Homo sapiens: one gene and its partners. The protein of the gene in region 6 interacts with the protein of the main gene of each other region in a pairwise test. Each region holds a gene or a part of one and is shown on either strand. Other genes may lie near its edges. The genes, in order: GJB5, MYOC, TRIM63, ZNF529, IRX6, MYL2 and LRSAM1.

Region 1 (4,163 bases), on a different chromosome or scaffold from region 6:
TATATTGGGACATGGATCTGCGTGGCACTTGACCACAGGAGGGAGGATATATTTGGGGTAGAATGAGTGGAACACATAGAGAAAGGCGATGTCCACGCTCGCCTTGAACACTAGGCTGCAGACATATGTCCACCAGAGCCCACCCCGCTTCTTGCCGGGGTTCAGGTAGAGGCGCCCACTGTTCTCCCCATGGGCTTCTCGGTGCCTCTTCTCCTGAACCTCCCGGTAGGCCACGTGCATGACCACGAGCAGTGAGGGGCATGTCACCAGGATAAGCTGCAGGGCCCAGAGGCGCACATGGGACACAGGGAAGAACTCATCAAAGCAGACGTTGGAGCAGCCGGGCTGGCGAGTATTGCAGTCGAAGTCCTTGTGGTCATCACTCCACACACGCTCGGCCGTCACCAGGTACACCAGCACGCGGAAGATGAAGACCAGAGACAGCCAGATGCGCCCAAAGGCTGTGGAGTACTTGTTGACCCCACTCAGGAGTCCCTCAAAGATACTCCAGTTCATGGTGGACCCACGCGTCAGCTGCTACTGCAGGGAAACAAGAACAATCATTTCCTACATTTATCACAGACTTGCTCTGAGCACTTTGTAGAAATATGTCATCACATTTCATCCTTACCATCACTAGAGGAGCTGGGTTCTACTACTGTCCCCATTTTGTAGAGGGAGGGAGCTGAGGTTTAGTGGCATTATATACAAGGTTACACAACTATTAGGTGCAGGGCTGGGATTTGAGCATAGGTAATTAAGTCCAGAACCCAGCTCTTACCAATACCAGTGGATAAGGGCAGGTCCAGGGAGCCACTCATTCCTCCCCGGGCCTGAGGCTCTGGTCTTGAGGTTCTGCAGAGTGAAGACTGGTGGAGCTGGGACATTCTGCCTGCTCCCTCTGTTTCAACCCTGGCCCTCCTCCTCAGGGGGGCTGAGCCTTGAGATGGTTCTCTCCTTTCTGAGCACTGCTGCCTCTTCTCAGACAGCCCCTTCCCCAGGGGAACCTGCTCTTTGTCCTTTTCTTGGCTCAGGGATGGGACTGGAAAGGAGGCTGGAACCTTGTCCCCAAGCCCCCATCTGGTCTAACACTCTGTAATTAGCCAGGCAGAGTCCTGCTCAAGTGCCACTCAATGCAATCCAGCTGAAAGCTAAAGCAGGCAGCAATAAATTCTCTTCATACAGTAGGTTTCCTAGAGTAACCTGGTATTCCAGTGTTTCCCAAACAGTGTTCCCTGGAACCCTGTCCCATAGGTTGGCAATAGGAGAAGTGAGAGAAGAGGATTCTGTGTCAAGAAAAGTTGGCAAACATTGGGTTTAGTAAAGTTAAATAGGGTTCTTTTGCTCAACCGTGCTAATAAACTCACTAATAAATTCACCAAAAGAGGTATGAAATATGTGGCATTGCCCAAACTCATTTGCCCACAGAAGCCCTTTTCCTCCTGACATAACATTTATCATCTTGTGGAACAGCCTTGTCAAGACATCAAGTGGGAAATGCTGCTCCTGTCAGTTCTGCTGGTGAATTTGGCCTGATGAACTCACAGAATCAGATTCACCTCCGCGTAAGGACTGTGACTGCTAGGCAGAGTAAGGGGTCCCCACTTCCTCACCCGCGAGTCCTCTGCCTGATTCCTGGAGATGGGGGTGTGTCCATTAAGACCCATGCACTGTGGTTTCAACCAACTGTGCACCCTGGGACCCCAAGGAACCTGTCTGCCTAGCCACTAAAGGGCTCATGATGGCCTTCCCATGCTGGTCCAGGCTGAAGCTCACCAGGCTCTCTGGAGCCTCTGCATGATCAACTGCAAAGCAGAGTAGTGATAACAGCCAATATCCATGAAGCATTCATGCCGTGCCAGGCACCGCTCTAAGTTCTTTGTATGAATCAGTACATTATTCCTTCACAGCAACCTTAGGAAAGGGCATATTTTTTATTCCCAATTTACAGATGAGGAAAGAGGAACACAGAGGGATTAATTAACTTGCTCAACGTCACACAGCTAATAAGTGGCAGAGCTAGGATTTGAACCCAGGCAGGCTGGCTCTAGAGCCCACCCTCCGGGAACTGCCCAGCCTTAGGCCTCAGACCCTTTCCTCAAGTTTCAATGAGCTGCCTGCCTGTTTGTGTGCAGACGGATTCTGTCCTTCCCCTTGTGTGTGGATCCTGGATGAGGGTGGCTGGGGGAACCTTTGCCCACCACCCTGTCTCCACACCACCTGCGCCACTTGGACGGGGGATGGGTGGAGGTGGGGGCCGGGGTTGGGGGGAGCTCTGTTTTGAATCACCATCTTGCATGCTCAGTCCTGTCTAAGGTAGGACTCCTGCAGCTTCTCAGGGAACACCCAGGAAGGCCCCGCCCTTAGCCCCAGGGGCTCTCACCCAGCCCATCCCTACTTGGGGAGGAGTGGGGCAGGGCTTTGCAGGCCCAGGCAGAGCTACCCTGCCTGCTGAGCTTCCGGCCTGGCCCCTGCTCCTACCTTTGCCCGGCTGGGGAGACCTGAAAGAACCCAGAGCCCCTTATTCCTCCACCATCAGGACCCAGGGTGGCAGATGTGTCCAGGCCACATCCCACCACTCCCCAGCAGAGAAGTGTCCTCCTGCCACGTATGCCAAGGGGCAGGGCACATGCGGACACAGATGCCCTTACCTGAGTGACTACTCCTCAGGGCTCTCCTGGCTCCCAGCAGCCGGCAATAGGACTCAGCAAGCAGCTTGAATTTCATATCCAGAAGCGGGGAAGGTTTTCGGGGAAGCCCGTTGAAGCCTGTTTCCAGGACAGAGCCTGCCGGGTGTGCTGGCCCAGCCTGGGAGGAGGAGGAGCTGGGACCTGCACTGCCATTGGCTGGGCCCCAGCCTCCCCAGACTGCTTCTGATGAGGCTCAGGAAACTGAGGGGTTCACTCCTCCCAGGGCGCTGAGCCTCGAATCCTGGTATCCTCTCAGGGGAGAGCCACAGGTCCACTCTGACTCCTTGTTCATCCTCCCATCTGTGGGCTTGTGTGGGAGAAGCTGAGGCCTGAATCCCAGCTCTGCCACTTTCTCACTGTGTGATTTCTTGCCTTCTCTGTGAAAGTGGGAAAAGAACAACACCTACCTCATAGGGTGGATACGTGGATTAACCCAGCCTTAGGGGTGAAGTGCTTAGAACAGTGCCTGACACAAGGGAAGCCCTGTCTACAATTGCCTATAATGCGTGTATACTGCCCAGCACAGGCCTGCCGCATGGTATGTCCTCAAAAAAATGTTTCTTCCTCCTCCTTTTCCTTATTCCTAGGCCTTTTCTTTCTGAGATACAGGGAAGGCAGAGGAGAAGGGAGGGAGAGAGAGACGTATGCACTAGAGAAAATCTCATTTGGATGCATGTTGTCTTTGGGTTAAAAAGGCCAAACCCAAGCCAGGCAGGAACCACAGGAGAGGTGGAGAAGGTGGGCAGGGGCACCTGGGGAAAGCTTCTCATTAGTGCACAGACACGGTCTTTTGGCCTAATTGACTTCCAAGGTGCCCTGTATCAGCAGGTCACTTGGGGTCAGGATTCAACAGACAAAGCATCCAGGAGCCACAAACACCTCATGTCCACAAGCAAACACAATGTAGCTTCACATGAGCATACTCTTACACACAGGCCACAATTATGGGCACAGTGTTGCACACACATGCAGCAGTGGCTTTATTTTATTCACTGCTCTATCCCTTGTGCCTAGTATGGTGCCTGGTGTCTTGTCCAGTTAGGCTTCAATTTATATTTATTGAATGAATGATGTGTGAAATGCACACACCCTGCAGAGAGTCACACATTTCTATACTCCATGCTCTTTCCAAAAAGCTGTTGCCAAGTACAGGAGAGAGGAGGCATATAAAGAGATCAGTTACAACATTGTGAGAAGTCCTAGAAAAGACACAGAGAGAGAAGGGAGTTTTAAGTTCTGCCAGAGGGAGAGCCGGAGAAGGTAACATTTAAGCTGGGTCTTGAAGGATGTATAGGAGTTTACCAAGAAGAGATGCTGAGGAGGGGCCTTTGAGGCAGTGGGCACATAGCGTGCAGAGGACCTTTGTGAAAAATAATGGAAGAGCATTGGAGAGTGGGCTGGGTAGTGGTGGGGACACCACATGGCAAGGAGCCTGGAAGGTCAGCAAAGACCTTCCAGACCATGAAGGACCTG
Region 2 (3,500 bases), on a different chromosome or scaffold from region 6:
AGGGAAGATAAAACATGATTGGACTGTGCTGATAACAGTTGGGCCTGAGTGATGGCTACATTGGAGTTCATTGTAGTCTCTCTACTTTTGTGAATATTTGAACAATTCCATAATTAAAAACCTCATAAATAATAAATTGCAGGGCAATGTGCCTACCTTAGAGTAGGGTATTCAAAATCAAATAATATTTTAATTCCACTAGAAGGGCTGGTTTGTGAATAGGTGAGTCGTAATTTCAGGAATATGGAGACAGTCCTCAGCATCTTCTTAGATGTCTGAATTTCAATAATTAAAAATTCATGAAAAATTAGCTGGGCATGGTGGTAAGCATCTGCAGTCCTAGGTACTTGGGAGGCTGATGTGGGAGGATTGCTTGAGCCCAGAAGTTCAAGGCTGCAGTGAGCTATGATCCTGCCACTGCACTCCAGCTTGGGTAACAGAGCAAGGCCCGGTCTCAAGGTCTCAAAAAAAAAAAAAAAGAGACCGGGCACAGTGGCTCACACTGAAATCCCAGCACTTTGGGAGGCCGAGGCAGGCGGATCACTTAAGGCCAGGAGTTCAAGACTAGCCTGGCCAGCGTGGTGAAATTCCATCTTTACTAGAAATACAAGAATTAGCAGGGTGTGGTGGCACATGCCTGTAGTTCCAGATACTCAGGAGGTTGAGGATCACTTGAACCCAGGAGGCAAAGGTTGCAGGGAGCCGGGATTGTGCAACTGTACTCCAGTCTGGGCAACAGAGCAAGACTCTGTCTCAAGAAAAAAAAAAAAAAAAAAAAAAAAAAAGAAGTGTGGCTCATGTCTGTAATCCCAGCACTTTGGGAGGCCAAGACAGGAGGAGTACTTGAGCCCAGGTGTTCAAGACCAGCTTGGGCAACATAGGGAGACTCCTGTTAAAAAAAAAAAAAAGATAAAAGTTTACTGCATGACTTAAGGTTTTTTCCCTTGTTATATGCAAATATTCTTGTAAGAAGTAACATATTAAGCTTTATACTTTCAGTAGAAATATTCTGTCTGATTCCTTTCTGAGACCAGTTTTGCATAATGGAGAGGGAGTGTGTGCAGAGTTCCTATAGGAGTTTGGGGTGGGGGTGGTGAGCCATACAGAAGGGAAGCGGGTGGGCAGCATTGGTTAGACAGTAAGTGATCATGGTGTGCTACATGTCTCTACTCTTGCTTAGGATTATGATCTTACAGCAGTCTTGAATACAAGGATGAGGCAATAGTCACAAGGAACAGGCTTGGCTATTTTAAAATGCAGTTTGGCCAGGCCCAGTGGCTCATACCTGTAATCCCAGCACTTTGGGAAGCCAAGGTAGACAGATCACTGGAGCCCAGGAGTTCAAGACAAACCTGGGCAACATGGTGAAATCCCATCTCTACAAAAACTACAAAAAGTTAGCCTGGGTGGTGATGTGTACCTGCAGTCCCAGCTACTTGGGAGGCTGAGGTGGGAGGATCACTTGAGACCGGGAGGTCAAGGCTGTGGTGAGCAGTGATCGTACCTCTGCACTCCAGCCCTGGCGTAGAGTGAGACCCTGTCCTCCCCTCCAACCTCCCAAAAAACCCATCACATACACATAAAAACAAATAAAATGCAGGTTTGATGATTATTCAGGTGTGGCAAGGCCAACATCCCAGGAGGCAATTGTCACTGAAAAGCAAGTTAAAGCAAAATTATGGAGACAGTAAAAAGATCAGCAGTTGTTGGGTGAGGAAGGGATGACTAGGTGAGGCACAGACGATTTTTAGGGCAATGAATACTGTGTATGATACTATAATGGTGGACACATGTCACTATGCATTTGTCTAAACCCATAGAAGGCGCAACACCAAAAATGAACCCTAATTTAAACCGTGGACCTTGGGTGTTGTGCGTGCTGATGCAGGTTCATCAGTTGTAACAACTGCTGTGGCGGGAGATGATGATAATCGGGGAGGCTGTGCATGTGTGGGGGCCAGTAGTATCTGGGAACTGTTTGTACTTTTCTCTCAATTTGGCTGTGAACATAAAACTGCTCTAAAAAAAAATTATCTTTACAAGTTGTTGTACTCACAGAGCCCAAGAGGAAGGGGGCACACTAAGCCCAGGAGGCCACCTGGGGAAGCACCAGGGTTGCTCCAGAAGAGGGCACCAGGGGAAAATGTGGGAAAGCGCCTTTATTCTTTCCATGGGAAGGAAAGAAAGGGGAGGCAGGGTAAGCAGGTTTAGGATTGGGGAGTTTGAATAATTTCAGCAGGATCTGGGGTCACAGGAGTTATCTCTAATTGTCTGGTACCAGGCCCTGGGTGATTAGGTCAGGGGGACAGTGGCCTTGAGTTTGAGCCAGATGGAGGTGGTCACAGGGTGTGGGCTCTGGATTGGTTGGTTTGCATATGAAAGCTGTCCTCCCAGGTGAGTCCTTTGCTAACCGTAGGAACTGGCTACCCCTGGGAGGGGCAGTCCCTCTCACGTTTGCAAGGCCCAGACAGCAAAGCATCAGAATAAAAAGACATGCTTAATACACTGGGCTTTTCTCTTGCTGAACCTCTGAGTCACTTCTCTGCCCTTTGAGCAACTTGTTCCCCGCTCAGGATTCTCAGGTGTTCAGGACAGTGGGAGGAAAGTCAGTGCATCCCCTGAGGCCGGAGCGCCTACACAGCCGAGAGGGTCGGGAAGACATGTTCTGCCTTTGATCATTTGTTTGCTCAGCTCTCCTAAATTTAGATTTCAGGCAGAGAGGATCACCACAGAAGTCTTAATCCTCTGGTTCTACCACATTTCATCAAAGCCACACATTATTTTACATTTTCACATCTCCAGAGTCAGGGTACCTTGTTTGAGTTGCTGGGGTTCAGCTTCAACAAATTATAGTACTGGAAAAAATTTCTCCCTGGAAGGAGGTGAAGAAAACATTCAGCTAGCTCTCAGGTGCAGGCTGGGCCAGACAGCCATGCTGCCCACAGTGAGCCAGCTCAGTAGCTGCTGCAGCTGCCTGCCCCTGATCCCAGCTACCCTTCTCTCCTCTCCACCCCTGCCTCTGTGTGGCTGCAGTTGTTAGCCTCCCTAAAAGTGTTAATGCCCTGGAGGTGGGTGGGTCCTCCATCCCTGGGATATCCCTCAGTCTAGAGTGCACCATGTAAGTAGTTAAAACCCATAAGCTGGCCAGGCGCAGTGGCTCATGCCTGTAAACCCAGCACTTTGGGAGGCCGAGGTGGCAGGATTGCATGAGGCCAAGAGTTTGGGACCAGGCTGGGCAACATAGCGAGACCCCATCTTTACAAAAAATTAAAGAGTTAGCTGGGTGTGGTGGTGCAGTCTGTGGTCTCAGCTACTCGGGAGGCTGAGGCAGGAAGATGACTCTTGAGTCCAAGAGGGCAAGGCTGCAGTGAGCCATGATCATGCCACTGCACTCCAGTCTGGGTGACAGAGTGAGACCCTGTCTTAAAAAAAAAAAAAATTAAAAAAAGAAAGACTCATAAGCCAAAATGTATATGTAACTGAGGACATCCTCAATGTGC
Region 3 (3,415 bases), on a different chromosome or scaffold from region 6:
AGCTAGGATTGCAGGCATGCGCCACCACGCCCAACTAATTTTGTATTTTTAGTAGAGACGGGGCTTCACCATGTTGGTCGGGCTGGTCTGGAACTCCTGACCTCAGATGATCTGCCCTCCTTGTCCTCCCAAAGTGCTGGGATTACAGGCATGAACCACTGCACCTGCCCAGCCTTAATCTGCCTCTTCTTGATGATTTTCAGTGAGCCTTCAGTGAGCCTTCAGTGAGCACGGGGAAGTCCCTATAACCTGCAACTAAAGCATTTAAATTTTGCCTCAGGCTCTGTTTTCTGGAGAACCAGAGCAACAACACATTGAACCTGTTCTTGAAGGACCAGCTCAGGGCTGGCTTTCCATGGAGTCCACATTGGGAAATGGTGGTGTCGAGAACTCCTTTACTGGGACCTAAGCCTAGCCCTGCCATTGCCTCCTACCAGGGGTCCTGTTCATTCACACTCAACCCTCATCTCCAGGAAAAAAAGGCTGAATGAAACCCCGGCTCCTTTGAAGAACAGGAAGAGAGCATTGTGCATTTATTAAAACAACATATAACACAAACTCAGTTACCACCCCGTATGTCTGGGATAGGCACTGAAATACAGCACATCGTCCCTGTGAGTGCTACCCCATCCTCCTGCTCAGGAAAGGAAGTGGGCAGCTGTATCAACCTGGCTTCCTTCCCCTCTTTCTGACAATCGCAGGTCACCCAACGACCAGGCATTATTATACAAAAGTTCCTTTACAAAAAGCACCAAATTGGCATACATATACAAGTATATACAAAAATCACATTTTAAAAATGTACAAAATATTCCATTTTGCACCAATGTAGAAAAGTGTCCTGTGTGATTGTTTCAAGCACGTTTCCAATTCTGGTTCAGTGTCTGCTGGACGCAGCGGTGAGGGTCCTACCCTAGTCCCTGCTCTCTGAGCAGAGAGAAGACATCACCTCCCCATTGCCCCTCCAGGGGCCCCGACCCCTCCCACCCTGGGCCTGTCACCAAGGCCGCTGGGCCCCTCCCCACCCTCTCCAGTCTCTCTGCATCTGGGGGCCTCTCATTCATCCAGCTCCTTACTGGTGTCCTGAAATGAAGAAAAAGATACAGAGGCAAGGGGTGAGACAGGGACTCAGGAGGATCCAAGGCTTACCAAGCTACTGTTTATTCAAACAGGAGTTTGAATAAAACATCAAACTCCAATTCCTCCCGGTCTCTTCCTTTTAAAACCAAAATAGAATTTAGCTGCCCAAATATTATGGATTGTACATCAGTACAAAACTCCAAAAGACTACCTATAGTTTTCAACTGGATTGGAATTTAGTTTCAGTACCTGTGGTTTGAAAAATAACATTTGCAAGCATGTGCTAATTAGCAAACGTCCTTCCTATGCATCAGACACCGTGCTAAACGATTATCTTATTCACTTCCCACTACAACCTTTTGACGTCAGTACTGTTAGACCCCCATACACAGATGAGTAGCCCAAGACTCAGAGAAATTGTGAGCTGCTGTGATTCAGAACCCAGGCTCCTAATCAAACTCTGCCAGGCTGGCAAACTCAGATGCCTACAAGGAGCCAGCAGATAACATGAATGAGTGAAGCAAGCGGGACTGGTGGTGGTGGGGCTGGGCAAACTGGCAAGGGCATGTCCCATTTTTCTTTTCTTTTCTTTGTTTTTTTTTGAGATGGAGTTTCACTCTTTTGCCCAGGCTGGAGTGAAGTGGCGTGATCTCGGCTCACTGCAAGCTCCGCCCCCCTGGGGTTCTAGCGATTCTCCTGCCTCAGCCTCCCAAGTAGCTGGGATTACAGGTGCCCGTCACCACGCCTGGCTAATTTTTGTATTTTTAGTAGAGACGGGGTTTCACCATGTTGGCCAGGATGGTGTCAAACTCCTGACCTCAGGTGATCCGCCTGCCTCGGCCTCCCAAAGTGCTAGGATTACAGGCGTGAGCCACCATGCCAGCGTGTCCCCTTTAAAGGGGAGAGCCACTGCCCAGAGCCAGCACTCTGGGACTACAAGGAAGTTCAAGTCCAGCATTGTTTGCTTTTTCTAAACTTTCACAAGGTGAAAATGCAGATTCTTAGTTCAAATCTCCTTTTTCTTAACCCTTAAAAAAAACCTAATTTTAAAAATGTTAGCAATTAATTTTTTCTTTTAAGAGACAGTGTAGTGTCCTCTGTTGCCAAGGCAAGAGTGCAGTGGCGCAATCATAGCTCACTGCAGCCTCTACCTCTTGGGCTCAAGCAATCCTCCAGCCTCAGCCTTCCGAGTAGCTAGGACTACAGATATGTACCACCATGCCTGGCTAATTTTTAAATTATTTTTGTAAAGACGAGGACTTGCTGTTGACCAGGCTGGTCCCAAACTCCAGGTCTCAAGCAATCCTCCCGCCTCAGCCTCCCAAAGTGCTGGGATTATAGGCACGTACCACCACACCCAGCCAGCAAGTATTTATTTATTTATTTTTTGAGATGGAGTCTCACTCTTGTCACCCAGGCTGGAGTGCAGTGGCACGATCTCGGCTCACTGCAACCTCCACCTCCCAGGTTCAAGCGATTCTCCTGCCTCAGCCTCCTAAGTAGCTGGTACTACAGGCGCCTGCCACCAAATTCAGCTAATTTTTTGTATGTTTAGTAGAGACAGGGTTTCACCATGTTGGCCAGGCTGGCCTTGGCCTCCCCAAGTGCTGGGATTACAGGCTCGAGCCACCGTGCCTGTCCAGCAAGTAGTTTTGTTTGTTTGTTTGTTTGTTTTAATTTAAACACAGTGCTGGCCAAACAAAACACCTCAATGGGCCCAGCCTAGCTCATGAGCCCCTGTCTTTTCCCTCTGCTGTGCCATATTGCTTTCCATTTAAGAAGATCATTTAGATGTGAAATGGGAGCATTTTATTATGAATAGTTTGGGGTTTTTTTCTTTTCTAAGGGTAAAGAGAACAGGACTTTACCCTCAGTAGGGTTAAAGCACGTGCTGGGGACAGTTCTGAGCGTCATTGCCAATGTCTAACACAGTGCTTCACATACAGTAGGCACCTCAGATTGTTGTGGAATGAATGAAGGAACGAAGGAATGGAGGTAGATGAATTTCTTACCTTCTTCCTTCCCTTCTGTGGACTCTTCCTCTTCCTGATCTTCTTCTTCAATGAATTCTTCCTCTTCCTCATCTGTGACAAAAAAACATTTGTGTTAGGATGGGGCCGGTTCCTTGAGGAGCTACTTGAAGAGGAACCAGGCAAGAGAGAGCACGGTCTAAACCCCTTCCTGTGCCCAGTCGGGTCAAACGGCCACACAGCGGCGGCAGTGGTCTGGGAGGGGATGGGCTTGCCAGACCCACGCTGCACAGAGGCCCTGCTCCTGCAATCCCCCGCACTCCGTCCCAGGGAGCTGGGCTCAAGTCACTTCCTTGCTCCAGCAA
Region 4 (4,152 bases), on a different chromosome or scaffold from region 6:
CTGGGAGAATTAGGTGCTGCCTGTGCAACTGCACTGGAAGCTTGCACCTGGTTTCTCCCGGTATTTGCCCTATGCAACTTTTCCCTTTGCTGATTTTAATGTGTACCTTTTCATTGTAATGAAGAATAACTATGAGCATAACAGCTTTTCTGAGTTCTGTGAGTCCTTCTCGCAAATCATTGAACCTAAGACAGTCAAATTGCCTTAATAGAACATTTGCAAATCTGGCTTTTAAAAAATTCATTTCAAGTGCCCATCAAAATTAACTTTATATTTTCATTGCTCTTGATTTACAGAAAATGTATGGGGAATACTAAGAATCTTCACAAACCAGCTTTTTTTCTTCCCTTGCAGATAAGGACTTAAAGTGCCAGGCCTTTATTAAATTCTCTAGGTTTATGTCCATATTAATGTATCCAGGCCTCATAAAGACCCTAAAGCACTGATATAATTATTGTTTACATTCTACAACAAGAAACTGTAAAGCGGAAAAATGAGTAACTATTAACCCCTTTGAAATGCAGTGTGAACATATAACTGAATTTTAAATTTTTTTCACTTTTCCTAAGCTAATTAACACAGGATTACCTTTAATTTTAATTAACTTACATTTAAATACAAAAGCAATATAAATGTTTTTCTATTAAACACAACTTTATTGTTTTGGTAGGACTATAATTCACCCTAAACACTGAAAATTTAGCATCCAAATTGAGACATGCAATAACAATAAAACATATACCAGATTTTGAAAACTTGGTATAAAGATATGAGTGTAAAGTATTTCAGTGTATTCATATCATTACATGTTGAAATAATATTTTGGATATATTGGTTTAAATAAAATACATTACCAAAATTAACTTCAGCTGTTTCTTTTTCTTTTTAAAATGTGTTTAAAGCCGGGCGCAGTGGCTCACGCCTGTAATCCCAGCACTTTGGGAGGATGAGGTGGGTGGATCACCTGAGGTCAGGAGTTCGATACCAGCCCAGCCAACATGATGAAACCCCTTCTCTACTAAAAATTCAAAAATTAGCCGGGCATGGTGGCGGGCGCCTGTAATCCCAGCTACTTGGGAGGCTGAGGCAGGAGACTCACTTGAACCTGGGAGGCAGAGGTTGCAGTGAACTGAGATCGCACCATTGCGCTCCAGCCTGGGCAATAACAGTGAAACTCTGTCTCAAAAAAAAAAAAAAAAGTGTCTAATGGAAATTTTTAAATTACCTAAGTGGCTTTATATTATATTTGCATTAGACTGTGCTGCTTTAGACTCAGACACCACTGTATCAGGCTGCCTCTCACAATCTACACCAATGTCACACTGCCAAATCTCAAAGAAGATTTGGTTGTCACCACTTAAATCCCCTCATGAATGTTCTGGAAAAACTCCCTGCCCTTGTTGACATAGCCTCTCTGCATAAAACTCCTATCATATTCCCACTCCTAAATGTCTCCAAAGCCAACTTTGTCACTTACTGATTAATACCTACCATCTCCTATCTTGCTTTGTTTGCAAATCAAGTCTGTAAATAAGATCAAAGGTATCTAGTGTGCCATTCTACTTAATCACTCGTCTCCTCCTTAACAAATTACATTCTAAAAAAAAGTTTTAACTTCTCCTCCAGGAGTTGTATTTCTATACCATAAAAATCCTTTGGAAAAAAAGAAGCACATGGGAGAATTGAATGATTTACCTAATGCATATGTGAATATTCAATGAAAGGGAAATGGGCATTTGGAAAGGCAATGGAGGACAAGGGGACCCATCTCTACGGTCCTGTTGTTAATTGGGAAGAGAAAACCAAGGGACCAGGTAAATGAACAAAAAAAAAAACTAACCTTGAGTTGGCCATTAGTACCAATGCTGTCTTCCACTTCAGGGGGCCTTCACTTGCAGAACTACATAACCAAGAGGGAGAAAGGACTCATGACATCCTGGACTGGTTAAATAAGAACACAGTGTTCACCACCAGAAAAGCCCATCACACACAACAAACACACCCAGATCGAAGAGGGAAACTAGAATACTGTCGACTCCTCCCCACATCCGAGAAAAAGGTACGACCAATGCCTAGCAGTTTCTAGGGAACACAGCTCAGGAAATACTGTAGTTCTTTAATGTATAAATGGCCTCCAAACTCATGCAAGGGGAGTTATCCCAGGAATGAATACTACACCTATGCCCTCCCCTTCACGTCTTCCCAGGAAACTTCATTTATCTATCTTATCTATCTATCTATCTATCTATCTATTATCTATCATTTATCTATCTTCTATATATCATCTATGTAATCTATCTATATGCGTGTGTGTGTGTGTATAAGACCTCACGAAGAGATTCCATCACAGACATCACAGAGTCGGAAAAATGACGCTTTACCCAAAACAAACTCCTACAGGCTCACGGAAAAAAACGAACAAACAAACAAACAAAAAAAAACAAAAAAACACTTCTACCCCGTTCACACTTATAGTTGGTCACAACAGTGCTGTCACACGATCACGTCACCGTAGACCAGGGTCACACGATAGACCCCGCCCCTACTCACCGTCCTGAGTCCGATCAAACAGCACCCACGGCACACACTAGGGTCTCCGTCTCTCACACACACACACCACAATGACGTCGTAAACAATAGCACTAACCACCATCGTCCGCAGCTCCCGCGTACAGAGGCCTCAGGCTCCCGGCTCCACGTGGACCGACCTCGCCCGGCAGCGCGGGGCCACCTCACCGCGAGCTCCTCCCGCAGCCCGGCCCGGGTCACCTCGACTCGCCAGGCTTAACTCAATAACCACAACACCGGAAAAGGAAGCAAAGGTCGAAGTTCATCCGCGGCCCTGAGGCCTGTGGGAAACGTAGTCCAACAACGAAAGAGCCCTGAAGCTCAAGCGGAGCCCGCTGGCCGCAGGGGCCGCACCACGCCCCAGACCCTGGAGTTTCCGGGTGCGCAGACCCTTGCCATCAGCAGAGGCTGCCGCTGCGCGTCCCCTAGGCGCGGAAGAGGCGGCTGGTGGTCCCTGACGGCAAGGTGAAGTCGAGGCAGTAATCGGGAACCCAGGTTGGGAGGACAGAATGGGGAACAGGAAGCTGGGGCGAGGGTGGTCTTGGGGGAGGTGGGGGGCCGCGGAATTCTAGGTGGCCCCTGCCTCACCTCTGGAAAGAACCGGAAGCCCGGGCCGGGGAGGGTGAAGGGAGTCGCGGACCCGGCTGCTCAGCCGAGGAGGAAACCCGGACCCCAGGCTGAGGGAGGCCGAAGAAGGAACTGGAGGGCCGGGCTGGGAAGGCCTGAAGCGGGTACAGCCTTTAGGCTGGGGAGGGTCGAGGGGAGAACTCGGAGCCTGAGTCGGGCGAGGTTTTGCTCCACTCTGGCTTCTAAGTGTGGGGGCCTCAGGATGTGACCCGTGGTCGTAAACCTGAGGGTGACTTGGAGTTTTTGTCCGTTTTGCACCATGAGAAAGGCCCCAGATGGAATCTGGCAGGTAGCGGCGGTTCAGTGTGTGTGTGTCTGCCTTAGGGCGTGTTTTACACTGTTGACGAAAAGACTCAGACTCTAAAGTATTTGAAGAGACTTATTCTGAGCTAAATATGAGTGACCAATGGCCGGTGGCCCAGCCCTCAGGAGATCTTGAGAACCTGTGCCCAGGGTGGACGGGATATATGTGGTTTTATACCTTTTAGGGAAACATGAGACACCAATCAAATACATGTAAAATGTACATTGATTCCCTCCGGAAAGGCGGGACAGCTGGAAGGTGGCTGGCCTTCCAGGTCATAGGTAGATTCAAAGATTATTTGATTGGCAATGGGTTGAAAGAGTTATTGACGTAAGACTTAGGAATGTCTCCAGGTAGCACGCTTCACAGAGAATAGATTGTAAATGTTTCTTTTCAGACTTGGGGTCTTTTCTATCAGTAATTCCAAAATGGAGGAGGGTATAATGAAGCATGTCCGACCCGCCCACCCCCGCCTTTCCATCATGGCTTTACTAGTTTTTCAGGTTAGGAATGCCCTGGCCAAGAGGAGGGGTCCATTCAAGATGGTCTGGGTGTGCTTAGGATTTTATTTTTGGTTTACAACACCAGCACCACCGGAGTTTGCTGGTGTCCTTTCCAGTCAGTTTCAAAGCAGAGACAGCCATAGTTCTGAT
Region 5 (3,980 bases), on a different chromosome or scaffold from region 6:
CAGTGTAAGGTGCTAGTGGCAAACTTGGAGTTGAGGTACGCCCCGTCCAGGACCCCAGACCTTGCCCCGCCTCATACAAGAACCCAGAGCCGTTGCTATCTTCTGGGCCACAGGCTCTCGCGTTTCAACTAGAAAATAAAACTGGGCCCTTGAACCAACCCCTATGGCTCCTTGGAGGAGTTGCAGCAAGAGCCTGGTGCAACTTTAAAAGTATAAAGCGCTTTTAAAAGTATAAAGCGCGGTGACCCCGGTAAGTGAAAGGCAAGGCTTTCTGAGGTTTCTGGCCTGCAAATCCCACTGGATTCCTGCAGTGCCCACCGAAGACCTTCCCCTACCAGACCGACAGTCCCTTTTCACCCCTAGACGTCGCGGGTTGGAGGCTCTCAGAAGGGCAGCTGGGGCCAGAGTACTGAGCCTTCAGATGTGCAGTCTACCGTGCTCGCAAATTGGAGGTTCCATGTCTCGGGGCCAGGCCTAGAGGAGGCAGCCCCTTCCTGGGTACCAACGAGCCTCCCCCACCCCTGCCGCCGCCCACCCATCAGTGCCCCTTTGAAGACCCCTGGGATGGAGTGAGGGGGTGGTCAGACCGCTGGGCCCAGCCGGGCGTCCAGGAGGAGCGCAGGGAATGGGCCGCCCTCCCGGAGCGCTCCACTGCGGCTCTCCAGCGCCACCCCCAGCGGAGCGCAGGGGCTGCAGCCCGGACCGGGAGCCTTCTTCAGGCTCCCTGGCTGCCCCGCGGCCACTGCGGGAGGCGCGCGCGCGAGGCAGCCAAGCCTTGCCTTCGGAGGAGATGCCCAGGGATCTTAGCAAGCAGCCTGCGGCTGCCAGGGATCGGACCTGGCGAGTTTCCCGACGGAATCTGAGGGATCCCGAACCTCGGCCTCGAGGGGGCGCTATCCGGCCTACTCGAGGACCAGGCAGCTGCAGAGAAGCTCCAAGGTCAAGGCCCTGGGCCAGGCCAGGGCTTGGAGAGCCGGAATCTAGCCCGAGTCCTGGGGAGGCTGAGGCGGGGAACCAGATCCCCGAGGACAAAGATGGGCGGGCCAGTGGGATCCACCGACGCTGCCCGGAGCTGCTCCAACGAGAGCCGGGCCTGTGGCGTGAACAAACTTTACTTCAGCGCAGGGGCGGAGGAACCGGGCTGGAGGCTTCTCCCCCGGGCCTCTGCTCTCCTCCACCTGCCAGTGCTCAGCCTCCGCCCAGCCTTCGCCCACCCCAGCTCCCTCCCCCTCCCCCACGCGCCTCTGTTCACTCAGACTCCTGTCTCCCCTCTCCCCTCCTCCTTCTCCCTCTTGCCTTTCTCCCCCACTTTTCTCCTGTCTCTTCTTTTGTATTCTCTCCTCCCTCGCCGCCCCGGTTGCCTCTCGCCTCCTCCGGGCCGCAGGGGAGGAGGTGAGCGCGCTGCGCCCGGGGCCTGCGCGGCTCAGAGGGAGGCGTTTCTCCTACTTCTCCCGGGTAATTTGGAGAGGTTGTGTGTGTGTGCGCGCGCGCGTGAGCTCCAGGCGAAAAGGGGTAGGATTCAGCGCCGAGCAGAGAGGGTCAGGGTTTTTGACGTTCCTCGCCAGCTGCACAAACCTCCCGGAGCAAGTGTGAGTGTGGGTGAGAGTGCGCGCGCGCGCACGGGCTGGCTGCGCTTGGCACGCTTGGTGGCCCAGGGTCCCGGGGCCCGGGGTCCCGTCTGGCGGCCCGGGATTACCGTGACGTCACATTGAGCCTCTGGCCACCTTGGACTGGGACACCTCCGGAGCCTCACAGCCCCGCGCCGCGCCGCGCCTCACCTCGCCACCACGCGCCTTTGGGAACCCGCATCTTCTTCCTTCCCCTGCCCATCCATGGGCCCTTCTGTCTTCCGGACCCCACGGGCCGGAGGGGCGCCTTCCGGAGCGCAGGGCTCGGCAGCCGGGCTGCCCTCGGCTCTGCCTCCACTGGGGCCAACCAGGCGAAGGAACCGGCGCTGGGCATCCGCAGCGGTGTAAGGAACTGAGACACCTCACTGCTGGGGGCGCGGAACAGCTGGGCTGAGACGGGAACTCGACAGGGAAGAGAGAGACGGGCCAGGGACAGCCACCATGTCCTTCCCACACTTTGGACACCCGTACCGCGGCGCTTCCCAGGTAAGAGGCGCCTCTATGGGGGATAGGGGACAGACTGGGTGGAGGGAGTGCCTAGTGCACGGCGCCTGCCTCTGATCATCCTCCTCTTGTGTTCTGGGGGAAGCCAGAAGGAGCAAGGACCAGGGTAATGTGTCACAGCCTCCTCTGACATCCCCAGTCCCTAAATGAGAACGTTTCACCCCGGAGTGCACGCTGGAAAATCTTGTGACCTGAAACATGAGCACTCTGACCACGCGCTCAGTGAGGTGGGTGGGATCACAGGGATCTCCCAGTCAGGCCTCCTCCTATACAGAAGTCTGAGGTGGCCGGGAGAGAAAGAAAGAAAGAAAAGAAAGAAAGAAATAAGGAAGGAAGGAAGGAAGGAAGGAAGGAAGGAAGGAAGGAAGGAAGGAAGGAGAGAGAGAGAGAGAGAGAGAGAGAGAGAGAAAGAAAGAGAAAGAAAGAAAGAAGGAAAGAAAGAAAGAAAAAGAAAGAGAAAGAAAGAACTTGTAGGCTACAACGCTGTCCATCTCACCATATTGTTGTTGATTTGTTGACCTCGGCTATTCTCCTACCCCTTCCTTGGGCGGGCCCAAGCTCTCCGGTTCCCTCGATTTTCCAAACCAAAGTGGATGTTGTGCAATGACAAGGGTTTCCTGGGAAAGTTCTGCGGACACCCCCTCCACTGTTCTCCAGCTTTTCTCTAGAGTTCTGAGTGTATTTTCCTGTTGTCTAGTGCCGGCTCGACCTTTGACCTGCTGTGTGATCTTAGACAAGTCTCACACTCTCTCTGATTATCCACTCCCAATCTATAGAATGGGAGCAGGAATGAGACGTTAATAATGGTCTCTAAGGCCACCTTCTAGCTCCGCCTTTGCAGGATCCTGGGAGGAGGGTAGGGAAGGGAGCAGAGGGTTTGGTGTCTTTAATTCCGGTTTCAAAATGTTCACATTTTCCCGGCCTCCTGGGGCTCTGGGGCCTTAGCAATGGAGTAGGAGCATCTATAAGGGCAGTTTGGTTAATTTATAATTCCCGTCCCAGCACCTAACAGAATGCTCAGCCCAGGTGGCATTTAGTTAATGCATAATGAAGGAATGAATGAAGGAGCAATCTGATTATCTGATTTTCTCTTCTTTGTTTCTAGCTCCCTTCAGCGGGAGCGGGGGCGGGGGTGGGGGGGGGGTCTCTGACCTCCAGTGCCCTCTTTCTTGCCCCTATAGTTTCTGGCGTCGGCAAGTTCCAGCACCACATGCTGCGAATCTACCCAACGCTCTGTCTCAGATGTGGCATCAGGCTCCACCCCAGCGCCCGCTCTCTGCTGCGCACCCTACGATAGTCGACTGCTGGGCAGTGCGCGACCGGAGCTGGGCGCCGCCTTGGGCATCTATGGAGCACCCTATGCGGCCGCTGCAGCTGCCCAGAGCTACCCTGGCTACCTGCCCTATAGCCCAGAGCCCCCCTCACTGTATGGGGCACTGGTGAGTACAGGGGTGGAGTCCCAGGGGAGTGAGCAGTAGAGACAGGTGAAATCCAGAGAAAGTCAAGGAAAGACCCACACCTCCCGAGGAAAGGAAATGGTTAGGACTGTGTATAAGGAGGACAAAAAAATACAGTACCTTACAGTTTGCAGAACTTCATACTGTTTAGAAAACATTTATACTTCTATTAATTCTGTGAGGTAGGCAAGTAATCATTAATCTCAATTTAAGAATGAGGAAATAGAGGTGCACAGGAGTTCAAATACTTTGCCCAATGTCACAGAGATACAAAGGGTCAGAGAAAAGCTCCTGAAGAAGATTAAAGCAGGAAGTGCCCCAGCTGGTGTGTGTTGTGGGGCAGGGGGCGGGGGGTGGGGGGCAGTAAGGGGGGAAAGGAGGGAGGGACAAG
Region 6 (3,500 bases):
TCCGATGGCATCCCAAGGGACAGATGTCATGGAAGCAAGGCCCTCTAAATGCTTGAGCTCTTTGGAAGAGAGGGCTTTGGTCATCCAGGTAACATTCCAGGAAAACGTGATCCTTGATAGAAACAGTTCTGAGTGGCTGCAAAGGTCTACCTTAAATAAAGAGTCACCAAGATTCAATAATAATGACTGCAAGGCTGTCACTAGCTCATCTGCCTTTGCCTTCCTTACACAAGGCACTGTTTGTCAGAGAAATGTCGTGACCAAATACACGACCTCCTGTTTATTGGAACATGGCCTCTGGATGGATTTCCAACTGTAGGATGTGCGGCCACGAAGTACCCATAGCCACCCAGGCTGCAAAGAAGATGGAGGTGGATAAATGGGGCAGCCACATGGCTAACAGACAAGGTAGGGACAGAGGCGGTACTCGGGGGAGAGAGATGAGGGCAGGGACCACTCTGCAAAGACGAGCCCAGGGCGCAGCAGCGAGCCCCCTCCTAGTCCTTCTCTTCTCCGTGGGTGATGATGTGCACCAGGTTCTTGTAGTCCAAGTTGCCAGTCACGTCAGGGGGGAAGGCGGCGAACATCTGGTCAACCTGCAATGAGCCAGCAACACGTGCTAAGGACGAGGGGAGGGGAACTGAGACGGAGGGTGGGGGGCTGTGGGCGGGGCCTGAGTGGACGGATAGCTGGGGGGTGGGGGATGGGAACATGGGCCACTCAGAGGGTCCTCCGGGGAAGGACTTCCCCAGCTGCTGCAGGGCCCCCTCGCCCAAGGTCATGCCCTTTCTGGGGCAGCCCACAGCCAGCGGATGGGATTGGTGTGGGGGTATAAAGGCACGGCCATCTCGCCCAACTTGGTACCTCTCAGGAGAGCTGTAGAATAAGCTCCCTCCCTGGGTAGTCAGCAGTGCCGATCTTTGGGCCTAAATCTTGGCTCAACTTCTTCCTTCATGCACTTTTCCTTCCTTGCCCTTCCCTGTTCTTCCTTTCTTGCCCTTCCCTGTTCTTCCTTCCCTGACCCCAAGGGCCCTCCCAAGTAAACATCATGCAGAGATGTCCCTGGAAACCCAGCCTTCCACTGGGATCACAAACTCAAGGGTTCCGAGGGGCCAGGCAGGTTATGCAAGGGAGCAGGATAGGTCCTATGGCTAAATGGAGACACGTGGCCATCTAAAAAGGTGACATGAAGTGACCACAGGGTCCAGGGTGTCAGAAATCTAGATTTTTGTTTTTACACAAAATTTCCCCATTTAAAAAGCATTGGCTAGTTATTATTATTATTTTTTTAAAACATACTGGCTATTCATAGCTAGCACTTATATTGCCCTTGCCACAAGTTCACACTTTCCCCACATTAACATGTCGAATCCTCGCAATCTCCTATGAGGTAGCTTCTATTATTATTCCCACTTTACAGATGAGGAAATTGAGGTGCAGTGAGGTTAAGGAGCTTGTTCAAAGCACACAGCAGGTGGAAAGTGAAGGCAGCCCTTTTAGCTGCTTGAATTTTGGGGGAGGGAAAATCTACATACAATTTTTAGTAAAATGTGGAACTTGATGGAAACAGGCCTGTGAGGCTATGAGGGGAGCATTTAAAATCGACTCATTAAGGTTCACTAATAAGGTTGACGGCACCATTGCTTGCTCATACAGAAGCTTTGGCAAATTAGCAAAAGTGCCCCTTCTACCAAACTCACTACCGCACCACCTGAGTTGAAAAAAAAAAAAATTATTACCAGACACTTTACTGCCAGTTCTGGAAAGCTGTTGCAACAAATACACAGTCTGATGACTTTTATGAAACTGACATTTAGAAGAATTGTTCAGTGCACAACTCACATGACAGTATGTGGCGGCCCTTCACGCCATAATAATGTCATGCTCTAAGCAGGTCTCTATGCATCGTGAGCAAGGCAGAACCTGCAGTCACGCAGACCTAGGTTTGAATCTAGGTCCTGGCATTTACTATTAGTGTTGTTATTTTATTTTATTTTTGAGACAGAGTCTTGCTCTGTTGCCCAGACTGGAGTGCAGTGGCATGATCTTGGCTCATTGCAACCTCTGCCTCCCGGGTTCAAGCGATTCTCGTGCCATGCGTCAGCCTCCTGAGTGGCTGGGAATACAGGCGTCCACCACCATGCCCAGCTAATTTTTGTATTTTTAGTAGAGACAGGGTTTCCTCATGTTGGCTAGGCTGGTCTCAAACTCCTGGTCTCAAGTGATCCTCCTGCCTTGGCCTCCCAAAGTGCTGGGATTACAGGTGTGATTATTGTTATTTTAGATGAGTGACTTTACTTCCCTGGGTCTCAGTTTGCCTATCTGTAAAATGGCAGTTATGCCAGTCCCTACCTCATAGGGTGGCAGAGAATGAAATGAGGCCAGGCCTCAGAAGACGATAGCTGGTTCTCTGTCAGTGTGGGGTCAGGGGTGCTTTAGACGAGAGGGGAGACGGAGCCCCCCAGAAGGAGAACCCAGGAGCTGGGTTAGAGGGAGTGCTTGAAGGACCCCATTACCTCCTCCTTGGAAAACCTCTCCGCCTGCGTGGTCAGCATTTCCCGAACGCTGCAGAGAAAGGAAAGCAGGTGTTGGTGTCAGTTGTGTGTGTGTAGGGGGGACAGGGGGCAAGCAGGGAACCCCCTTCCTCCCCCACAGACCCCACTCACTAATCAGCCTTCAGCACCCCTTTGCCTTCAGGGTCAAACACTTTGAATGCGTTGAGAATGGTTTCCTCAGGGTCCGCTCCTGAAACGGAACACAGGGCTTACATGTACTGGGGGTGGCTGGGAACCACTGGCACCCCAGGCAGCAGGGCCCAAGTTCCCCCAGAGATGAAGGGGCCAGAGCAAGGCTGCTTTGCATGGAGGAAAAAGACCCTGCTTTCGTCTGATCACTGAGCCTCTGTATTTCGAAGAGAGGGCTGAGAACCCAAGGTCAAACATCATCTAGATTTGAAAGCCTGGGATTCAAATCTTAACCCTGGCACTTGCTAGCCATGTGGCCTCAGACAAGGGACTTTCTGTCTCTTAGTCTCAGTTCCCCATCTGTAAACTGGTGATAAGAATAGAGCATACCTCCTAGTTGCTATTAAGTGGGGTAATGCATATAAAGTGGTTAGCATGAGGTCTGACTTAGGTTAAGTCTTGGAGCAATGTTAGTTGCTGTGTTTTTGTTTTGTTTTGTTTTGTTTTGAGACAGAGTCTCACCTTGTTACCAAGGCCGGAGTGCAGTGGCACAATGTCAGCTCACTGCAACCTCTGACATCCCGGTTCAAGGGATTCTCCCGCCTCAGCCTCCTGAGTACCTGGGACTACAGGTGCACACCACCATGCCTGGCTAATTTTTTTGTGTGTTTTTAGTACAGATGGGGTTTCACCATGTTGGCCAGGTTGGTCTTGAACTCCTGACCTCAAGTGATCTGCCCGCCTCGGCCTCTGAAAGTGCTGGGGATTACAGGCATCAGCCACTGCGCCCAGCCAAGTTGCTGTTTTCATTATTTT
Region 7 (3,500 bases), on a different chromosome or scaffold from region 6:
TTCAACCAAACTCAGGTGCAAAATATTAAAAAAAAAAAAAAGAAAGAAAGCATCTGTAGTGAACACATACAGGCTTTTCTCTTGTCATTATTCCCTAAACAATATAGTATAACAGATTGGGCCTGTGCTGCTGGGCTGACACCTGTGCTGCCGGCCTCCTCTGAAGGTGCATATCACTCTCCCAAGCTCAGGTCTGCGCATAACAACCCTGGGCTCACACCTCCCACATGTTGTGAATGCCTCCCAGCCCATCCGGGGAGGAGCTCACAGTCAGCAGGGAGTCCTTCCAGATCACCTGCGCGTCCCTCCTCTTCCTTCTTGCCTGGGACCATCAGTCTCCTCGCCCTCTGCTAGCTGACTCGCCATGAGGCTGTCACTTGGCTTTCCTCCTGGCATGTAAACTCCCCAGGGACAGGGCCTGTGGCTGGTCATCTTTGTCACCCTAACCCACACACAGCCCACAGAAGTATCCAGTAAACCATACTGATCAAATCCCAGACTGACTGGTAGATTGGGCCCCTCTGACATGCAAGAGGCAGCCCAAAAGGAGCAGGCGCTCAGCTGCCGCGTGGAACCCCATGCAGAGCCCCAGCTGCCTGGGAGGAGGGCCCAGTACCTTGATGGTTGCCAGACTCAGGAGGCTGCAGGATTTGGGAAGCAGGGAAGTGAGGTGATTCGTGTGGACGATCAGCACCTGTGTGGAGAGATGTGCGGCCATGCTGGGCTGAGGAAGAGCAGCAGGCAGGGCAGGCTAAGGGCGTGGGAGCCAGCCCAGCGCCGTGCCACGCCCCACCATCTTGCTCTCCCAGACACCACCACGGGGATGCGGGTCAGTATCATGAACTCTCCCAATGGGGAATCTAATGCCCTTCCTTAAAACCTGGATCTTCAAGGGTGAAAGAGACCTTAGAGGTCTACATCTTCCTTCCATCTGAGAAGGGATCCCCCTGCAGCCATCCTGATCATAACCTTCCCAGCACCAGCGTCTTCACGTGGAAAATAGAGAATAATAAAGTGCTTGCCTCCCAGGGCTGCCATGATGTTAAATAAAAGCTCATGCGCAAAACTTCCAGGGCTGGCAGAGGGGCCAGGGCTCAGTCCAGGTCATCTACTGCTATTTTTCCTTTTCTTTTTTTTTTTTTTTGAGACCAACTCTTGCTCTGTCGCCCAAGCTGGAGTGCAGTGGTGTGATCTCAGCTCACTGCAACCTCCGCCTCCCAGGTTCAAGCAATTCTCCTGTCTCGCCCTCCCGAGTAGCTGGGACTACAGGCGCATGCCACCACACCCAGCTGATTTTTTTTTTATTTTTGGTAGAGACCGGGTTTCACCATGGTAGCCAGGATGGTCTTGATCTCCTGACCTCGTGATCTGCCCACCTCGGCCTCCCGAAGTGCTGGGATTACAGGCATGAGCCACCGCACCCGGCCAATCTACTGCATTTTTCTTAGGCATTGACTGCGGCCCAACACTTCCAGCACAGACTGGGCGTGGTGGCTCACACCTGTAATCCCAGCACTTTGGCAGGCTAAGGCAGGTGGATCACTTGAGGTCAGGAGTTCGAGACCAGCCTGGCCAACATGGCAAAACCTCATCTCTAAAAATACAAAAATTAGTTGGGCATGGTGGTGGGCGCCTATAATCCCAGCTACTCAGGAGGCTGAGGCAGGAGAATTGCTTGAACCCAGGAGGCGGAGGTTTCAGTGAGCTGAGATTGCACCACTGCACTCCAGCCTGGGTGACAGAGCAGAGCGTCCGTCTTCAAAAAAAAAAAAAAACAAACAAAACTTCCAGCGCCAAGGAGCTCACTACTCTGTTGGCAGGGAACACTTTTTTTTTTTTTTTTTTTTGCATATTCTCATTTAGATACTTCACTTAGAGCGCTTCTACCCATCTGCATTCAAAGCTGCAATGCTCTGCTGAAAAATCATTCACTCCCCTCTGAATCTCCCCTGGGTGACCAGAATAAAAGGCGTGAGTTTCTATTATTACTAACACCGGGGTTCATAAGCCTTTACTACGTGGTAGGCATGTACACTCAGTATATTTCTATCTCTATCTAGCTATCTACCACTCATTTAATTCTCACAATACCTCAGGAAGGAGAACTATGAATGTCTTCATTTCACAGGGGAAGAAACTGAGAAGTAAGAGTTTAAGGAAGTTGCCCAAGTCATGAAGCCAGTGAGGGCAGAGTTAGAATGTGACACAGGAAGGTCCAACCCCAAAGCCTACTCTCCTATCTGTGAAAACACCTGCTGCAGGCCAAGAGCATAAGAAGCAGAGAGAAAGGAGGTGTCTACGCCGGGAAGACAGCTCCTCAAAGTCCCTTGTGGGTTCAAACAAGCAGACATGCAACAAGAAAGTCTCTGAAGATGAAGCTCCATCTTACCTTCTTCTGCAGAACTTTGCATGTTGCAAAAGCTCCAAATGGAATCTAAGATAAGATAAAGAAGAGTAAGTGTCTCCCCTCCTGCCAGTTTTTAGCTTGTTCTCTGAGTGGCATTCACGTGAGGAAGAGACAGGCAGGAGGTGAACAAGGGCAAAACGCCACAGCAGGTGGCAGTGCTGAGCCCAGGGGCAAGGCTGGCAAGCAGTGGTGTTGGGGATGTGGCCAGCCCTTCCCTCGGTCAGCTGGCAGGAGACTGCCCTGCCCCACCCACCCTGTCCCCATTGTGAACCCCTTCAGGGGCTGGAGAATGCCAGGCCCTTCCAGCAATGTAGGAGTCTATGGGTACATTTTCTACCTAGACTCCTTGACTCTTGGAGACTACGTTATATTGAGGCCAAAGGATCATCTTCAATTATTTTGGACGAGAACAAAATCTAAGGAAACATCTCGTGACTAGAGCTTCTGGCCTTTCTAAAGCCCCAGTCCACCTCTGTCTTTCCTAGGGACACAAGATCCAAGAAAACGGGACAGATCCAATTCACAGCCCAACACTATCCTCAGTTTACCTCTGAGAGCTCACATTTAGAGATGTCGAGAATGTCATCTGCCCCAGCTTCTTTTGCCTAAGGATAAAAAGAATTTTTAAAAAGTATTAAGACAAAACACCTTTGCAGAGTGGACAAGCCAGGCAAAGAACATAAATGTAAGCAGCTGCAAAGGACCATAGACACTATCTGGTTCCACTGGTCCATTTGGCAGGTGAACCAATGACCCCTGCTTTCCCAGAGCTTGAGGCCCAGAGGGATGAGGAACTGAAAAGCAATGACAGTGCGCTCAGTCTACAGGGGAGAAGCACCCTTGGCAGGGGGCCTCATCTGTTGGGTCTAAGTCAAATATTTCTTCTGTGGGTGGGGGAGGCAGATGGGAAGGAGCACGGCTTGTTGGGGGCAGTGCGGAGGCCTACTCCATGGGGACCGAGGAGGAGATGGGATAGAGTTAGAGGAAACCCACTTTCCCTCACCAAACACATCTGGTACTCCAGGCGTTTCCGAGCCTCCTCACTGGGTTTCCGCTTCCGGAAGAAGAGCGGCATCCTTCCCTTTTCCCAGAG

The links.
Region 1: the proteins of MYL2 (region 6) and GJB5 interact in a two-hybrid assay, tested with the Homo sapiens proteins (one large-scale study listed by BioGRID and IntAct).
Region 2: the proteins of MYL2 (region 6) and MYOC interact in binary tests that used the Homo sapiens proteins (3 or more experiments, as listed by UniProt).
Region 3: the proteins of MYL2 (region 6) and TRIM63 interact in a two-hybrid assay, tested with the Homo sapiens proteins (one study listed by BioGRID).
Region 4: the proteins of MYL2 (region 6) and ZNF529 interact in a two-hybrid assay, tested with the Homo sapiens proteins (one large-scale study listed by BioGRID and IntAct).
Region 5: the proteins of MYL2 (region 6) and IRX6 interact in binary tests that used the Homo sapiens proteins (3 or more experiments, as listed by UniProt).
Region 7: the proteins of MYL2 (region 6) and LRSAM1 interact in a two-hybrid assay, tested with the Homo sapiens proteins (one large-scale study listed by IntAct).

What each region holds. Positions count from the first base shown.
Region 1 is NC_000001.11:34,753,684-34,757,846, reverse strand, and holds the start of GJB5 (gap junction beta-5 protein), read right to left. Parts: upstream 2,801-4,163; 5' UTR 2,652-2,800; intron 541-2,651; 5' UTR 517-540; coding exon 1-516. UniProt on the Homo sapiens protein: One gap junction consists of a cluster of closely packed pairs of transmembrane channels, the connexons, through which materials of low MW diffuse from one cell to a neighboring cell.
Region 2 is NC_000001.11:171,639,189-171,642,688, forward strand, and holds part of MYOC (myocilin precursor), read right to left. Parts: intron 1-3,500. UniProt on the Homo sapiens protein: Secreted glycoprotein regulating the activation of different signaling pathways in adjacent cells to control different processes including cell adhesion, cell-matrix adhesion, cytoskeleton organization and cell migration.
Region 3 is NC_000001.11:26,050,801-26,054,215, forward strand, and holds the end of TRIM63 (E3 ubiquitin-protein ligase TRIM63), read right to left. Parts: intron 3,165-3,415; coding exon 3,093-3,164; intron 1,084-3,092; coding exon 1,073-1,083; 3' UTR 501-1,072; downstream 1-500. UniProt on the Homo sapiens protein: E3 ubiquitin ligase. Mediates the ubiquitination and subsequent proteasomal degradation of CKM, GMEB1 and HIBADH.
Region 4 is NC_000019.10:36,570,493-36,574,644, forward strand, and holds the start of ZNF529 (zinc finger protein 529), read right to left. Parts: upstream 2,801-4,152; 5' UTR 2,648-2,800; exon of another isoform or gene 2,551-2,647; intron 1,901-2,550; 5' UTR 1,855-1,900; coding exon 1,841-1,854; intron 1-1,840. UniProt on the Homo sapiens protein: May be involved in transcriptional regulation.
Region 5 is NC_000016.10:55,323,023-55,327,002, forward strand, and holds the start of IRX6 (iroquois-class homeodomain protein IRX-6), read left to right. Parts: upstream 1-1,180; 5' UTR 1,181-2,069; coding exon 2,070-2,114; intron 2,115-3,313; coding exon 3,314-3,571; intron 3,572-3,980. UniProt on the Homo sapiens protein: Transcription factor. Binds to the iroquois binding site (IBS) motif of target genes to regulate gene expression; functions as a transcriptional activator or repressor. Modulates expression of RCVRN, VSX1, BHLHE22/BHLHB5 and TACR3/Nk3r.
Region 6 is NC_000012.12:110,910,580-110,914,079, forward strand, and holds the end of MYL2 (myosin regulatory light chain 2, ventricular/cardiac muscle isoform), read right to left. Parts: intron 2,746-3,500; coding exon 2,667-2,745; intron 2,566-2,666; coding exon 2,517-2,565; intron 597-2,516; coding exon 498-596; 3' UTR 266-497; downstream 1-265. UniProt on the Homo sapiens protein: Contractile protein that plays a role in heart development and function.
Region 7 is NC_000009.12:127,454,510-127,458,009, reverse strand, and holds part of LRSAM1 (E3 ubiquitin-protein ligase LRSAM1), read right to left. Parts: 5' UTR 3,483-3,500; coding exon 3,411-3,482; intron 3,013-3,410; coding exon 2,956-3,012; intron 2,435-2,955; coding exon 2,390-2,434; intron 695-2,389; coding exon 617-694; intron 1-616.